4 linked regions of the Homo sapiens genome follow. Changing the gene in region 4 together with the main gene of any one other region gives a genetic interaction. Each region holds a gene or a part of one and is shown on either strand. Other genes may lie near its edges.

Region 1 (3,500 bases), on a different chromosome or scaffold from region 4:
GGGCCAACAGAAAGTTTATGGCTGTTTATACCTCTGTGTTGAAGGATTTTGAGGCGAATCTGGTTTTTTGGTTAAAGTGTTGCCATTCAGTCACTTGGTCTGCTGTGAAAGGGTAGGGAAGAGATAATTGGAAGTATTCATCTTTCTTGAGCTAGTGCAAGCTATATTCTGCCTCTGTCAGAAACTTGTTCTCCAACTCCAGAGGCTTCTTACCTCAGTCCCCTATAGTGCTGTAGTGAATGCTTGTTCATAAAACTACCTGACACACATCCTTAATTACTTCTTTTGGATAATTTCCTAAGAATGAATTTTCTGGATCAAAAGGTACTGACATTTTTAAAGCTCTGGTGTTTCTTGCCAGTTGACCTCCAAAAAGATAGTAGCAATTTATTCTGTCAGCAATGTATGAGAATGTCCTTCTCTTTCCAAGGGCTAACGAAAGGGAAGGGCACGTGGAAAAACCTCAGGAAAACATATTGTGGCTGACATTTCAGCCATGAATGGTATAAATTTTCTTTGCGATGCGTTCAATACATTTAAATACATTAAAATGATAGAAATAACTAATAGCTTCCTTACAAGTTGTCTTTGAGTAAATATTCACATTTTGCTTTAACTCTACTTTTACTTTGCTGATTAGGTGATAAACGGCATTTCCTTTTTTAAAGATTTGATGATTATTTAGTGAAGTTTGGACATATACCATTTTTACTGGTCATTTTGTGACGTAAGTTGTTTATAACTTACCCAGTTATTAATTGGGATGATGATTGCCTTAACTTCAAATTGTAAAACAAAGATGATATTCTTTAGAGAGTAGGGGTGAGACATTAGGGCCCAGGTCATTTGAAATAAAAATTTTTAGAGGTGAAACTTGGTAAACAAGGATAAGCAAGGAAAATATTTTGTACTTAGGAGCACTTCAAACACTTCTTTTTCCAGAAAATTAGGGTATATTTAAAGGTATGTTTGGGTTCCCCTGCTTCTAGTGTATATAATTTGTTACTTATTTTAAAGGAAACTTACTATAATGCAAAAAGCATTGAACTAAAAGCAACCAAGTTTTAGTTTTATGTACCACAAATGATAGCTAGCAGTAGGGTCACTAATAAAGGTGTTTCAACCTCTGGGCCTTGGTTGTCTTTTAAGGGAATGGCTTGAATCTGAATAGGAATGGCCAAAGATTCTAGCTTGTGTGCCAGTTCTATTTTGTAGGTATCTGGGGAAGCAGAATTAACAGAGATTAAAATAGGACATAAAGAATACATAGAAAACTAAATTTCTCTATTGGATGAACGGTGGGCTCTTCATAGATTGTAGAGGTAGTTCTAATTTCTTATGGAAAGTGATGCTGTCTCTTTTGGATGTGTTGAATTTGAGATTCTTGTAGAGATCACCAGTAACCAGTCAGAAATATTGGCTTGGATTCAGAGATTTGGAAATAAAAACATTAACATTTAGATGGCAGTGAAAGAAAAGCCATAAGCTGGCAAGGAGCTTTCTTAACTGAATATGTGGATGACAGTGGAAACAATTTTCCACAGAATAATTTGATTCTTTTTAGGTTATATTCTTGAGCAGATTGTGCCCATGTGTGTATTTAGCATTAGTAACCGACCATATAATTGCTGAGATTTTTATACCTCTGATACTTGCAGGCATACAGTTTGGAGAGCTGATCCACCCCACCTTCGCTTTTTTCAAAGAAATAGAGTCAGGGTTTTGCCATGTTGCCCAGGCTGGTCTCGAACTCCTGGACTCAAAGGATCTGCCCACTTTGGCTTCCCAAAATGCTGGGATTACAGGCCTGAGCTACCATGCCCAGCCCCTTTTACTTTTAAAATTACTGCCAAACCTCTAGATCAGTAACTGCCAACTAGGGCAACCCCCCACCCCCTCTTCCCAATTATTGGTAATGTCTGAAGACACTTTTGGTTGTCCTAACAGGATGTAGGAGAGTTCTGGCACCCAGTGGGTAAAATCTAGGGATGCTGCTGAGTATTCTGCAGTGTACCAGAAAGGCCCTTTACAACAAAGAATAATGTAGCCCCAAATGCTAATGTTGAGATTGAGAAACCCTGCTGTAAAATCTAGGTAAGATGGAACTTACTAAAAGTAATTTAGTAATTCCCTGAAATAATCTGAGATCCTGCCCTAAGTCTTATAGTTTTATAGAAGAGGTAAGATACAAGAATAAATGTTTGTAGCAGGGCAGAGGTGCCTTGTAAGGACAGAAACGGTAATATAGTTCATATGAGGTAGAAATCTCAGTGGGTGACAGGTTAAGACCTCATGAGCAGTTAGTGTTGAAACTGTGTGATAAATTCTGAATGGGCTTACTTTCAGGTTGAAGGAATTTATTTTCCAGAGGAATCACTCTTTCATGTAATTTACTACAGGGTAAGAGTTTAGAAACATTACTGCTAGCAAAGAAAAAATTACCTCCCTTCTAACCCCTTGACATTTTTAAATCAAAGGACCATTTGATCCTAACTAAAAGATGCTTTGAGTTTTATGCAAATGCACCTTTATCAGTATACGTCAGAAAAATGTTTACCAATAGATCTCTCTCCCTTTTTTTAAAAAGTGACCTTGAGGGGTAAAGGTCATTCCTTTGACAGAAATTGTTGTGACTGATCTTGTGCTACAATGGAAATTAAGAGACATAGGCTTGATTCTGGCTTTATCCATAACTGTCTGTATAACTATAGGTACATTTGTCTCTTGGGGGTTTAGTTTCATCATCTGTAAAATGAAGGGGGAGTAGATCCAGTCCAGATCAAATACTCTGCACAACAAATGAACAGGCAGTTAAAATTATGTGCCAAGGTACTCTTAATACTCACTAAAAGTATAAACAGGCTTTAAGCTTTCTCTATACTTCATTTTCACTTTTTGTTATATAACTTAAAAAGTCACACTTTGAGCCTGGTGTGGTGATGTGGTGCCTGTTGTCCCAATAGCTCAGGAGGCTGAGGCTGGAAGATCACTTAAGCCCAGCAGTTCAAGGCCCCTGGGCAATATAGTGAAACCATCCTTCTTAAAAAAACCACTTTTTACCGAGACCCACTTTTGTGGAGTCATATCCCCATCTTGTGGCCTTTCAGAATATTGCTACTAAATGTTTTTACAATTATGAGCATAATTGGCAATGGGTTGAATAGCTAAAAACATTTGCGTCCATAATATCTGACATCGCTGTGCCAAAATTTAATGTGCATTAACTCATCACACTGCTTGATTTATAGGCCAAGGGTAAAGTTTTCTTACTAGCATAGTCTAACCCAGAAGTTATGTACGTGAAATTATAATCTTGTGGCACAAATTAATAGCCGATGGGAGTCTATAAAGAGGCAGATAAGTAACTGCATTTTTCACATTTAAGGACTTAATATAAAGTATCTGTAGGCACTTTGGCAGTAGCGGTTTCTTATTTACATCACAGTCTGTCCCACTTTTCCTTAGTCTAAAAATTCTGGTATGAAAATGCCTTGGGGTTT
Region 2 (3,157 bases), on a different chromosome or scaffold from region 4:
CAAAGCAATAAATAACAACATTCAACAAAAAGCCAACAGAATGCTACCCTCTGTTTACTTCCTGACTTGGTGTTTCCTTTGTTCCTGGAAAATTAATAGTTTATTGAGACATGGCACTCGTCTAAGAGTGCCGTGCAACCTAGAATAGCTCCACTGCAGCTGAAAGTAACCCCAGTCCTGTCCTTAAGCTCCAGATATCCCATCACAACCACCACAAAGCTTCACATACACATCTCATTACTTGTGTCCTCCAAATGCATTCTTTTTGGGTGATGGAAGTCTGTTTTAACCCTTTCTAGGACCTGACCCTGATAATCTCTAGAGTTGGTGGAGGAATGTGGGTCTAGATTATGGAGCCACTTTTGTATTGAGAAGGGGAAAGTTTGATACAATAGGAATGGTGATTGTTAACCCTTCACATACATCCAGTACAGAGGTTGGGACCTCTTTTCACGCAGTACAGTTGTGTCTCACATCAACGGAACTACCAAACCATGGTGTTGGGATCCTTTGAGGTGTTGTCTGCAGCCTTCTGTCCTCCTAAATACTCCTTCCTTCCCCTAGACCCGAAAAATCCTGTCTGCCTGTGAGAAGAATCCCACAGATGCCTACCAGCTCAATTATGACATGCACAACCCCTTTGACATTTGTGCTGCATCATATCGGCCCATCTACCGTGGAAAGCCAGTAGAAAAGTGTCCACTCAGTGGGGCCTGCTATTCCCCTGAGTTCAAAGGTCAAATCTGCAGGGTCACCACAGTAAGTACTGTCCTCAATAAATATATCTAGGATATTGAGCGAAGGGGAAAAAGAAAGAAACATGGTGGTCCTTTTTTTCTTCTTGTGCTTGTCCCCTGCTCCCTGAGGCAGTGACACTGGAGAAAGCTAGAGCATCTCCCCACTGCTCTTGGCCAGTCAGTGATGAACACCCCAATACCTGTCTACTGTGCCCATTGAGGGGTATAGGGAATACATTTTCTAGGGTTCTCAATCTTACAAATCTCTAACTTGTTCCTTTGTTTGTTTTTCCACAGGTGACAGAGATTGGCAAAGATGTGATTGGTTTAAGGATCAGTCCTCTGCAGTTTCGCTAAGGCCCCCTTTGTGTGCATGGGTCAGTCACCATATGTTCCCCCCAGAGAATGTGTCTATATCCTCCTTCTAACAGCACCTTCCCCCTGCAGCTACTCTTCAGATCTGGCTCTCTGTACCCTAAAACCTAGTATCTTTTTCTCTTCTATGGAAAATCCGAAGGTCTAAACTTGACTTTTTTGAGGTCTTCTCAACTTGACTACAGTTGTGCTCATAATTGTCCTTGCCTTTCCAGCTTAATTATTTTAAGGAACAAATGAAAACTCTGGGCTGGGTGGAGTGGCTCATACCTGTAATCCCAGCACTTTGGGAGGCTACGGTGGGCAGATCATCTGAGGCCAGGAGTTCGAGACCTGCCTGGCCAACATGGCAACACCCCGTCTCTAATAAAAATATAAAAATTAGCCTGGCATGGTAGCATGCGCCTATAGTCCCAGCTGCTCAGGAGGCTGAGGCATGAGAATCGCTTGAACCTAGGAGGTGGAGGTTGCATTCAACTGAGATCATACCACTTCATTCCAGCCTGGGTGACAGAGCAAGACTCTGTCTCAAAAAAAAAAAAAAGGAAAACTCTGTGATGGACATTTGTTTAGTAAATCCCTTCAGTATTTATCCCTCCTTTCCCCACAGCAGCTTTCTTTCCTGTCAACTAGAAAGGAGCAGGATGTAATAAATACATTTTGGTGTGACTAGGCCACACCAACTCTTAATCATCTCCCATTTTCCTTAGACATTTAAATTTCAAGGCAGGTACCCTCTGTGTACTCAGAAATTTGAAGAAGTTATTTGGTTTTCCAAAATGCACACTGCGGGTTATTGATTTGTTCTTTACAACTATTGTTCTCATATTTCTCACACTAAATAAATCTCTATGAGAGCTTCTTGACTTGGCCATTTATTTCTTGGACACTCTCATGTTCTTGTTCACCCATGCAGGCACCCCACCAAAGTACATATCTTCCTTCCAGTAATAATTTTTAATTACAAAATAAACATCCACTATTGGAAAAAAAAAAAAAAAGCTAGCCGGGCATGGTGGTGGGTGCCTGTAATCCCAGCTACTCTGGAGGCTGAGGCAGAGGATTGCTTGAACCCGGGAGGCGGAGGTTGCAGTAAGCTGAGATCGCGCCACCGCACTCCAGCCTGGGCGACAGAGTGAGACTCCATCTCAAAAAAAAAGAAAGAAAAAAAGAAGCACATGTTTTTCATAGGGTATATATGAGGACCTAAACTGCTGTGAAAATGATAGAAAGCAAGTAGCTCCCTTATTCTGTTTTTGATTGCAGCCTTTTATCTTTTGCTAATTATAGCAATATTTATTGAGCACCTGCCATGTGACTGTCACTGTTCTAGATATTTTACATGTAATATACAGATAAAAGAATAGTACTTTATATATATTACAATGATACAATGATTACATTAACAATACAATATTTTGCTTGTCATATGCTAAGAATAATTGGGTAGAGTGACATTACTGTGCCTTCGATTAAAATAAGTACTTTTTTGCGTGTTAAATTCATGTTTTCAATAAATAATAAATGCATATAGTTGAAAAATCAGTAAATATAAAAAGCTATTCTGTGACAAATCTTTCCACCCTTTCATCAGCCACCCAGTTCCTATCACCTTCCCCTAAACAGGTAACCACTGTTACCAGCTTTCTTACATCCTTCCAGAAATTTTATATATATATATATATACACACACACACATATACATGCACATGCTGATATCACTATGCCATTCTCTATCTCCTTTTATACACAAATGAAACCACACTATTTAACAATTTTGTACCTTTGTTTTTTCATTTAACATTTTTGGTATTTTCTCGTATCAATATATTAGGGAGCTTCACTTTGTTTTTTACTTCTCTTCATACTATACGTTGTATTTTTTAGCTTTATCTTAAGAGTTGCTTTTTTAAACAGCATCCCTAAACTAAGGCTGCCTTCTCAACAGAGTACATACTACTAATGAGATTGTGCCATTGCACTCCACCCTGGGGTACAAGAGCGAGACTTCGTCTCAAAAAAAAAAAAAATGTACATATTAGCCG
Region 3 (3,500 bases), on a different chromosome or scaffold from region 4:
GTTTCACCATATTGGTCAGGCTGGTCTCGAACTCCTGACCTCAGGTGATCCACCCTCCTCGGCCTCCCAAAGTGCTGGGATTACAGGCGTGAGCCACCGAGCCCGGCCCATGTCAGTTATTTAATCCTCTTGAAAGTCTGTGAGGTTGCTGTTACTCTCCCCATTAAAAAAAAAAAAACAAAACAGAAATTAATTTCTCACCATCTGGAGGCTGGGATGCCCCCCATTTTACAGATGAGGCCAGCAGGGTTGAAAGCAGGTAGAGAGGTGTTGGGGAGATGTCATGCCCAGGGCTGCTGTCTCCTGAGTGCACAGCCTTTCTGCAGAACCTCCTTGCCTCCCCAGCAAAGCTGTTTCCTCCCTGGGGAGGGGACAGTACTGATTTCCGCCTTTGGAGGGAGGGGTTTGCTGGTTTACCTGCAGCTGAACTTTGGAAGGCTTTGAGCACAAAGAATCCAGATCCTGGAAAATCCCCAGACCCAGAGCAGGCCTGCTCGTGCCCAGCCCCAGTCCCTCTTGCCCAGTTCTGTCTGTTTCTGCATGTGTGACCTCGAGAGTCAGCAGGGCTTCTGGCTGCCTCAGCCCCTTGGCCCCGTGGTCGGAATGGAGGCGTGTCTGTAAGCTAGGCACACACTTGCTGTCGAGGCACTGGGTATGGGCCTAAGCTCGTTGCTAGGTAAATAAATATGATTTCGTGTAATGAGAAAATAATCATCCAGCTTTTGAACGAAGGCATTCTTAGCGCACCTGCTGGGTTTCAGGAAGCCAGCAGCATAGCTGTTGTGTAAGTTGAGCCTGTTGTGTGCACATGACTGAGAGTCTGTATTTCTGTGCTTTACAGCAGAAAGATGAAGGTCTTAGAATCATTGATTGGAATGATCCAGAAATTCCCTTATGATGACCCTACTTACGATAAACTCCATGAAGACTTAGACAAGATCAGAGGAAAATTTAAACAGGTGCGTGCACTGTGTGTTTCCTCCTGCTAGGAGCACCTGATTGCGCCTTTCCCAGGCGGGGCAGCGCACTCCCGGGGCCGCTGCGGCAATGGCCTGGGGCTGCGTGCGCCGCGGAACTGTCCGTAGAGGCGCCTCATCCTTGAGTCGCAGTGCAGGAAAACTGAAGACAGTCCAGAGAAAAGGAGTTAGAACTCATTTATGGGCTGGCCACATAGACAGGAAAAGCTATAGCTAGAGATAGAGTTATCTTCTCATTTTTCAGTAAAAATGCACAAGATTAAAAATACCATCTCTTTTGTGTTTTCAGTTTTGTTCGTTACTCAATGTTCAGCCAGACTTTAAAATTAGTGCAGAAGGTTCCGGACTTTCATTTTGAGGAGGATGGATGAACAGAGACCGAACGTCGAGGAACAGATGTGTGTGTGACGTGTTTAGAAATGCGGTGAAGGGCCAGACGGTGCTGGGAAGGCAGTTGTTCATTGGGAGGGTGAGGGTTCCGGTTCGGCCGTGGGAGGGCTTCCTTCCCTGGGGTTTTCTGCCTGTGTCACCTTGGTGCCCGTCTTGGGGCCTCGCCACACATGCCCTTTGTTGGGCTGAAGCCGTCCCTGGCAGAGCCCTCGTGCATTGACTTGACAGCCTCTCCGGCAGCACAGGCCTAGCTGGTTCTGGGTTGGAGTTGGCTCTGGATAGGGTCAGTCACCAGGCCTGGACTGAAGGCAGTTATTTTTATTATTATTATTATTTGCAATGAGAGAGATGGTTGGCCCCGAATGAGGCTCATGGGAGGTTTGGACGGGTGCTGTGCCGCATGTCGAGGCCGATTGTGTGCCAGGCGGTGCGGGACGTGCCTCCCGTGTGTTATTTAATCCCTTCAGGAGCCCACAAGATGGGTGTTATTCTCATTTTACAGAGGAGGGAGGGGAGACGCGAAGGGATTGCCTGGTCTAAGGGCACCCAGCAGCAGAGCTAGGACTTCCGCCCTAAGGCTGTGCCTCACTGCCACCAGGCACAGCCGCCTCCGGAATGCACAGGCGAGTCCCTGCCCTCCCTCCCAGGCCGCACAGGTCCTGCCAAGCCTCACGGAGCACGGGGGAGTCTGTGGTGGCCAGTTTACCTGGGCATCTGGCTGAGAGGAAGAAAGGCCAACCTGATCCTGAGGGGACCCAGACATATCCTTTGCACTGTCCCTAGAGGGGCGATGAGCTTTGCAGCATTAAAAAATGGTGAAGGGGGGAAATATTTTGAACCAAAGACCAAATGTTAGGCCGCCGTTATATTTGCAGAAGCTTTGAGAACCATGCGTATAGCCTCCTGCATTCTCCCCTCTCCTAGGAGCTCTTTTGTCTCTGTCCTTACGAGGCGTCATACAGAGGCAGTGGGGTGGGCACAGATGAGCAGAGTGGATGGTTCGGTGGGTCCCCACGAGGCGAGTGGTGGTCATATGTGATGGCACGTGTTCACACACCCTCCTGTGTACCCCCCCAGGGTCACCGAAGTCCCCACACGCTGGCTCTCCACACCCCTCCTGTTCCAGAAAGCATGTCCGAAAGCAGTCCAGGAGATTATTAAGGGGTCGCCATGAATCCACTTTGGTTTTAAAACCATTCCCGAATGTCCTAGTGGATTGTGTTGTGCTGCCTAAGCTGCCGGCTGCAGGAGCCAGAGAAGTGACCCCCGCGGGAGCAGCGGCAGGTGGATCTCCACGGTGGCTCGCTTTGTTTTTGTTTTGTTTTTTCTTTTAAGACGGAGTCTCACTCTGTCGCCGAGTTTGGAGTGTATTGGCGCGATCTCGGCTCACTGTAACCTCCGCCTCCTGAATTCAAGTGATTCTCCTGCCTCAGCCTCCCTAGTAGCTGGGATTATAGGCGCCCCCCACCACGCCCAAGTAACTTTTGTATTTTTAGTAGAGATGGGGTTTTGCCTTGTTGGCCAGGCTGGTCTTGAACTCCCAGCCTGAAATGATCCACCCACGTCCACCTACCAAAGTGCTGGAATTGCAGGCATGAGCCACCACTCCCGGCCTGCTTTTTGTTTTTGAAGACAGGACTTAGGTCTCCTCCTCCCGAACTCTAAACCTGCGTGTGTGGCTGTGCACCGCTCGTTTGTAGCGTCACCTCAGGTCTGGGGAAGTCTGTGCTGGCATCTCCTCATTGTGCCTTCATCAGAGCTGGTGCCTTCGGGCCAGAAAGACTCTCGTTCTTTCTAGATGGTGGGATCAGGGGCCTTTGCTGTGTTTCCCTTGGTGGATTTTTGTGTTTTGTAAGTTGTCTATTTTGATAATGTATTATTTTTATAACTGTAAAAAAAGTAAATAGCATATTTTAAAGTGAAAGTTTGGGACCATTTATAACACAACGTCATTTATAACACGGCATCATTTATAACACAACATCCAGCCAGTTTATTTCTTCCTCCAGGGCATTTAGGATCTGGATATGAAGGAAGACATGGGCCTTAGATTTCTGCCAGCTTGTCTCCTTAACCTAGCGTAGACACAGCCACTGCGAGAGTGCTCCCATTGTGTTGGGGACTGGTCAGCTC
Region 4 (3,500 bases):
GGCTTATTTGGGTCAGAGAGGTGAGATCAACAGGAGGTTGATCTGGTACTGAGACTTAAGGTAATAATGTGAAAGTGTTATCAGGGCAAGCTTTAGCCTCAGCACTATTGATATTTTGAGCCAGATAAGTCTTTGTTGGGGGGAGGAGTAGACCGTGTTCTACACCATAGGGTGTTAAACAGTGTCCCTGGCCTTTACCCACAAGATGCCAGTAGCACCCCCTACTCTATTTGTGACAACCCAAAATGTCTCCAGACATTGCAATTCACTCCCAGTTGAGAGCCACTGACTTACAGCATAGACCAAAGGCACAAAAAGATCAGATCATGCTTCTCCGTGAGCTGGGCACAGTGGCACGCACTTATAGTCCTAGTTACTTGGGAGGCTGAGGTGGGAGGATTGCTTGAGCCTCAGAGTTAAGAGCCAACCTGGGCAACATAGCAAGACCCCATCCTTTAAAAAAAAAAGAGGGAGTTGAAAGTACAGAAAAGAAAGGAAAAGTAAGCATCCCCTGTGGATTCCTCTTTCTAGGCATGATCAAGCAGTTCCTCCGAGATGTGGACTGGGGAGAGGTCGACTACCTCATTGTGGACACCCCACCTGGGACGTCGGATGAACACCTCTCGGTCGTCCGGTACCTGGCCACAGCACACATCGATGGAGCAGTGATCATCACCACTCCCCAGGTGAGCGAGCTGCCAGCTGGAGCTGGGTCCAAACTGTGCTCCACACTGTGAGATTTCTTTCCTACCTGGCTCTGATACTCTGGTCTCACCAAGGCTCTTCCCAGTGTGTGTTCCGCAGCTGCATCTGATGTGGGTCTGCAGAAACCTCGTGTTAAAAACTTCAGCCAGCACAGTGATTCACACCTGTAATCCCAGGACTTTGGGAGGCTGAGATGGGAGGATCACTTGAGCCCACGAGTTCGGGACCAGCCTGAAAAACATAGCAAAACCCCATCTCTACAAAAAATATTTTAAAATTAGCCAGGCATGGTGGCTCGCGCCTGTAGTTCCAGCTACTTGGGAGGCTGAGGTAGGAGGATCATTTGAGCCTGGGGAAAGGAGGTTGCAGTGAGCCATGATCACGCCAGTGCAGTCCAGCCAGCGCAAGCGAGTGAGGCCTTGTCCCAAAAGATAAAAATAAGAAAAACTTCATCTTTGGTCTAGACATTTGCAGCTGACAACCATTCAACGATTTGGTTTTTTTTTAGTCCATGGATTAAACAATAGTGGGTCAAGAATGCTTTTTGAACTTTCCTTGAGGAAACTAGGGAAACCACCAGTGCAGTTATAATTCATACTGTGCTGCCTGGCCCCGTCAGCCTTGCCGTGTCCATGTGTCAGGTCCCCCAGCCTACAGTGGATTTTCCGTTTACATCCCAGGATGATTTAGGAAATCTCTCCAGTTTTCAACAGAACCAGCTGGGTGCAGATAGGGATTTCGGGATAAGCCACTGGGTGCCTTCGCTTCTTCCGTAGTGACACCCAGCAACCCTCTGTAGCAGTCACCTAGTGGCTGTACTCCAAGGCCCATGGTGAGCCCGAGCTGAGAGGAGAGCGATAGGAAGTTTCCTCTCTGTAAGTCCTGCAGAGAGCAACTGCAGGCAGGACCATGGTGCTATCCATCTCAGGGGCCTGAGAAACTGAGGGCTCTTCTCCATCTCCACAGTTACGCCTGACTTCTCTTCATGACGTTCTCCTCCACACTTAAGAAAGCCCAGCAAAGGAGGTTTGATTTGATCTCACTGGCCAGAATCAGTCAGGACGACCCATAGTCTCACCTCATCCAGCACTCACTGAGCTCTGACTCTGACATGCCGGGCACCAGGGCAGTAAAAAGGCCTGGCTCTCCCTGGTGGCCCCTGTGGCTCCCTGAGGAACACAGGTGCTGGACACAGGGATGAGGGTACAGCCAATGGAGTGGCAGGCCCAGCGGCCATGGGAAGGGTGTCCGGGTCAGAAAATGGTGCAAGATTCATGTCCACCCTGGCATCCTGCAGAGAGGGGACATGGGGACGCAAGGAGGAGCAGGACACCAGCTGGGACCCTGGACAGGAGGGAGGATGGCCTGGCCCGGGTGATGGCAGTGGAGAGAAAGTGTATTTGTCCTTAGGAATGTTTTCTGTCCCATTTTTAAAAAGTGGTTGGTGCTGGGCACACTGGCTCATGTCTGTAATCCCAGCACTTTGGGAGGCCGAGGCAGGCAGATTACTTGAGGTCAGGAGTTCGAGACCAGACTGGCCAATATGGCAAAACCCTGTCTCTACCAAAAAAATACAAAAATTAGCCAGGCGTGGTGGTGGGCACCTGTAATCCCAGCTACTTGGGAGGCTGAGGTGGGAGAAGTGCTTGAATCCAGGAGACAGAGGTTGCAGTGAGCCGAGATCGCGCCACTGCACTCCAGCCTGGGCGACAGAGCAAGACTCTGTCTCAAAAAAAGAAAGAAAGAAATGAGAGACTGAGTCGCAGCCCATTGACTTTCTAGCTGAGCGCCCCTTCCTCCGCATCCCAGCCTCAGTGTCAAGAGCCAAACAGGCATCTCAGGAAAAGAACAGGCCCAAAGCTGCGAGCCTTTCGGGCTCACGTGAGTGGTGAAGCTCCAGGTGCTAAGGAGTCACTACACCTGACAGTGACAAGCCACAGCAGGACTTGGGTACAGGGATCTGTGATAACATTAACTGAGGAAAATAGGGAGCTACTGAGCGGTGTTTATACACAGTAATCACATTGGAAAAACTCAGAGTTGAGAAGGAAATGCAAAGTTGTCCACATTGGGCAGTATTCCTTATTTCCTTTTAGTCAGTTGTTTGTGTTTATAATTATCTAGAGCAGGGATTGGCAAACTTTTCTGTAAAGGGCCAGATAGGAAGTAGGCGTTGCGGACCCCACGGTCCCTGTCCCAGCCCCTTAGCCGTGCCACTGTGGCATGAAGCAGCCACAGACGGTGCCTAGAGGGACGGGCATGGCTGGTTCCGGAGGAACTTTATTTATAAAACCAGCCAGATTCAGCCCCCAGGCTGGGGTTTGCCAAGCTCTGGTCTAGAAAACAGTGCACACACTGGCTTAATATAGTATAGTATAGGGACATGGAGCATGTAGATGCGTTAAAAGGTCATTTTCAGATAGGCACAGTGGCTCACGCCTCTAACCCTAACACTCTGGGAGGCCGAGGCAGGAGGATCACTTCACACCAGAAGCTTAAGACCAGTCTGGGCAACAACCATCTCTATAAAAAATTAAAAAGTTAGCCAGGCAGAGTAGCACATGCCTGTAGTCCCAGCTACTCTGGAGGCTGAGGCAGGAGGATTGCCTGAGCCCAGGAGGTCAAGGCTGCAGTGAGCAATGATTATGCCACTGCACTCCAGACTGGGCAGCAGTGAGATCCTGTCTCTAAAAAAAAAAGTCATTTTCTTTTAGGTTGATTTCTTGCTATTTGGCTGTGTGGGAAGTAAATAGCACCTCGAACAAACAGGGCTTAGCACTAGTAGGTACTAAATA

The links. Genes that interact genetically often act in the same process or in processes that back each other up.
Region 1: changes in NUBP1 (region 4) and NAA50 together harm fitness more than expected from each alone (negative genetic interaction), as found in Homo sapiens cells (one large-scale study listed by BioGRID).
Region 2: changes in NUBP1 (region 4) and COPA together harm fitness less than expected from each alone (positive genetic interaction), as found in Homo sapiens cells (one large-scale study listed by BioGRID).
Region 3: changes in NUBP1 (region 4) and LTO1 together harm fitness more than expected from each alone (negative genetic interaction), as found in Homo sapiens cells (one large-scale study listed by BioGRID).

The regions. Positions count from the first base shown.
Region 1 is NC_000003.12:113,736,250-113,739,749, reverse strand, and holds part of NAA50 (N-alpha-acetyltransferase 50), read left to right. Parts: intron 1-3,500. UniProt on the Homo sapiens protein: N-alpha-acetyltransferase that acetylates the N-terminus of proteins that retain their initiating methionine. Has a broad substrate specificity: able to acetylate the initiator methionine of most peptides, except for those with a proline in second position.
Region 2 is NC_000001.11:160,288,094-160,291,250, reverse strand, and holds the end of COPA (coatomer subunit alpha), read left to right. Parts: intron 1-564; coding exon 565-759; intron 760-1,034; coding exon 1,035-1,094; 3' UTR 1,095-2,657; downstream 2,658-3,157. UniProt on the Homo sapiens protein: The coatomer is a cytosolic protein complex that binds to dilysine motifs and reversibly associates with Golgi non-clathrin-coated vesicles, which further mediate biosynthetic protein transport from the ER, via the Golgi up to the trans Golgi network.
Region 3 is NC_000011.10:69,665,354-69,668,853, reverse strand, and holds the end of LTO1 (protein LTO1 homolog), read left to right. Parts: intron 1-841; coding exon 842-959; intron 960-1,266; coding exon 1,267-1,335; 3' UTR 1,336-3,291; downstream 3,292-3,500. UniProt on the Homo sapiens protein: The complex LTO1:YAE1 functions as a target specific adapter that probably recruits apo-ABCE1 to the cytosolic iron-sulfur protein assembly (CIA) complex machinery. May be required for biogenesis of the large ribosomal subunit and initiation of translation.
Region 4 is NC_000016.10:10,757,342-10,760,841, forward strand, and holds part of NUBP1 (cytosolic Fe-S cluster assembly factor NUBP1), read left to right. Parts: exon of another isoform or gene 1-531; coding exon 532-686; exon of another isoform or gene 687-936; intron 937-3,500. UniProt on the Homo sapiens protein: Component of the cytosolic iron-sulfur (Fe/S) protein assembly (CIA) machinery. Required for maturation of extramitochondrial Fe-S proteins.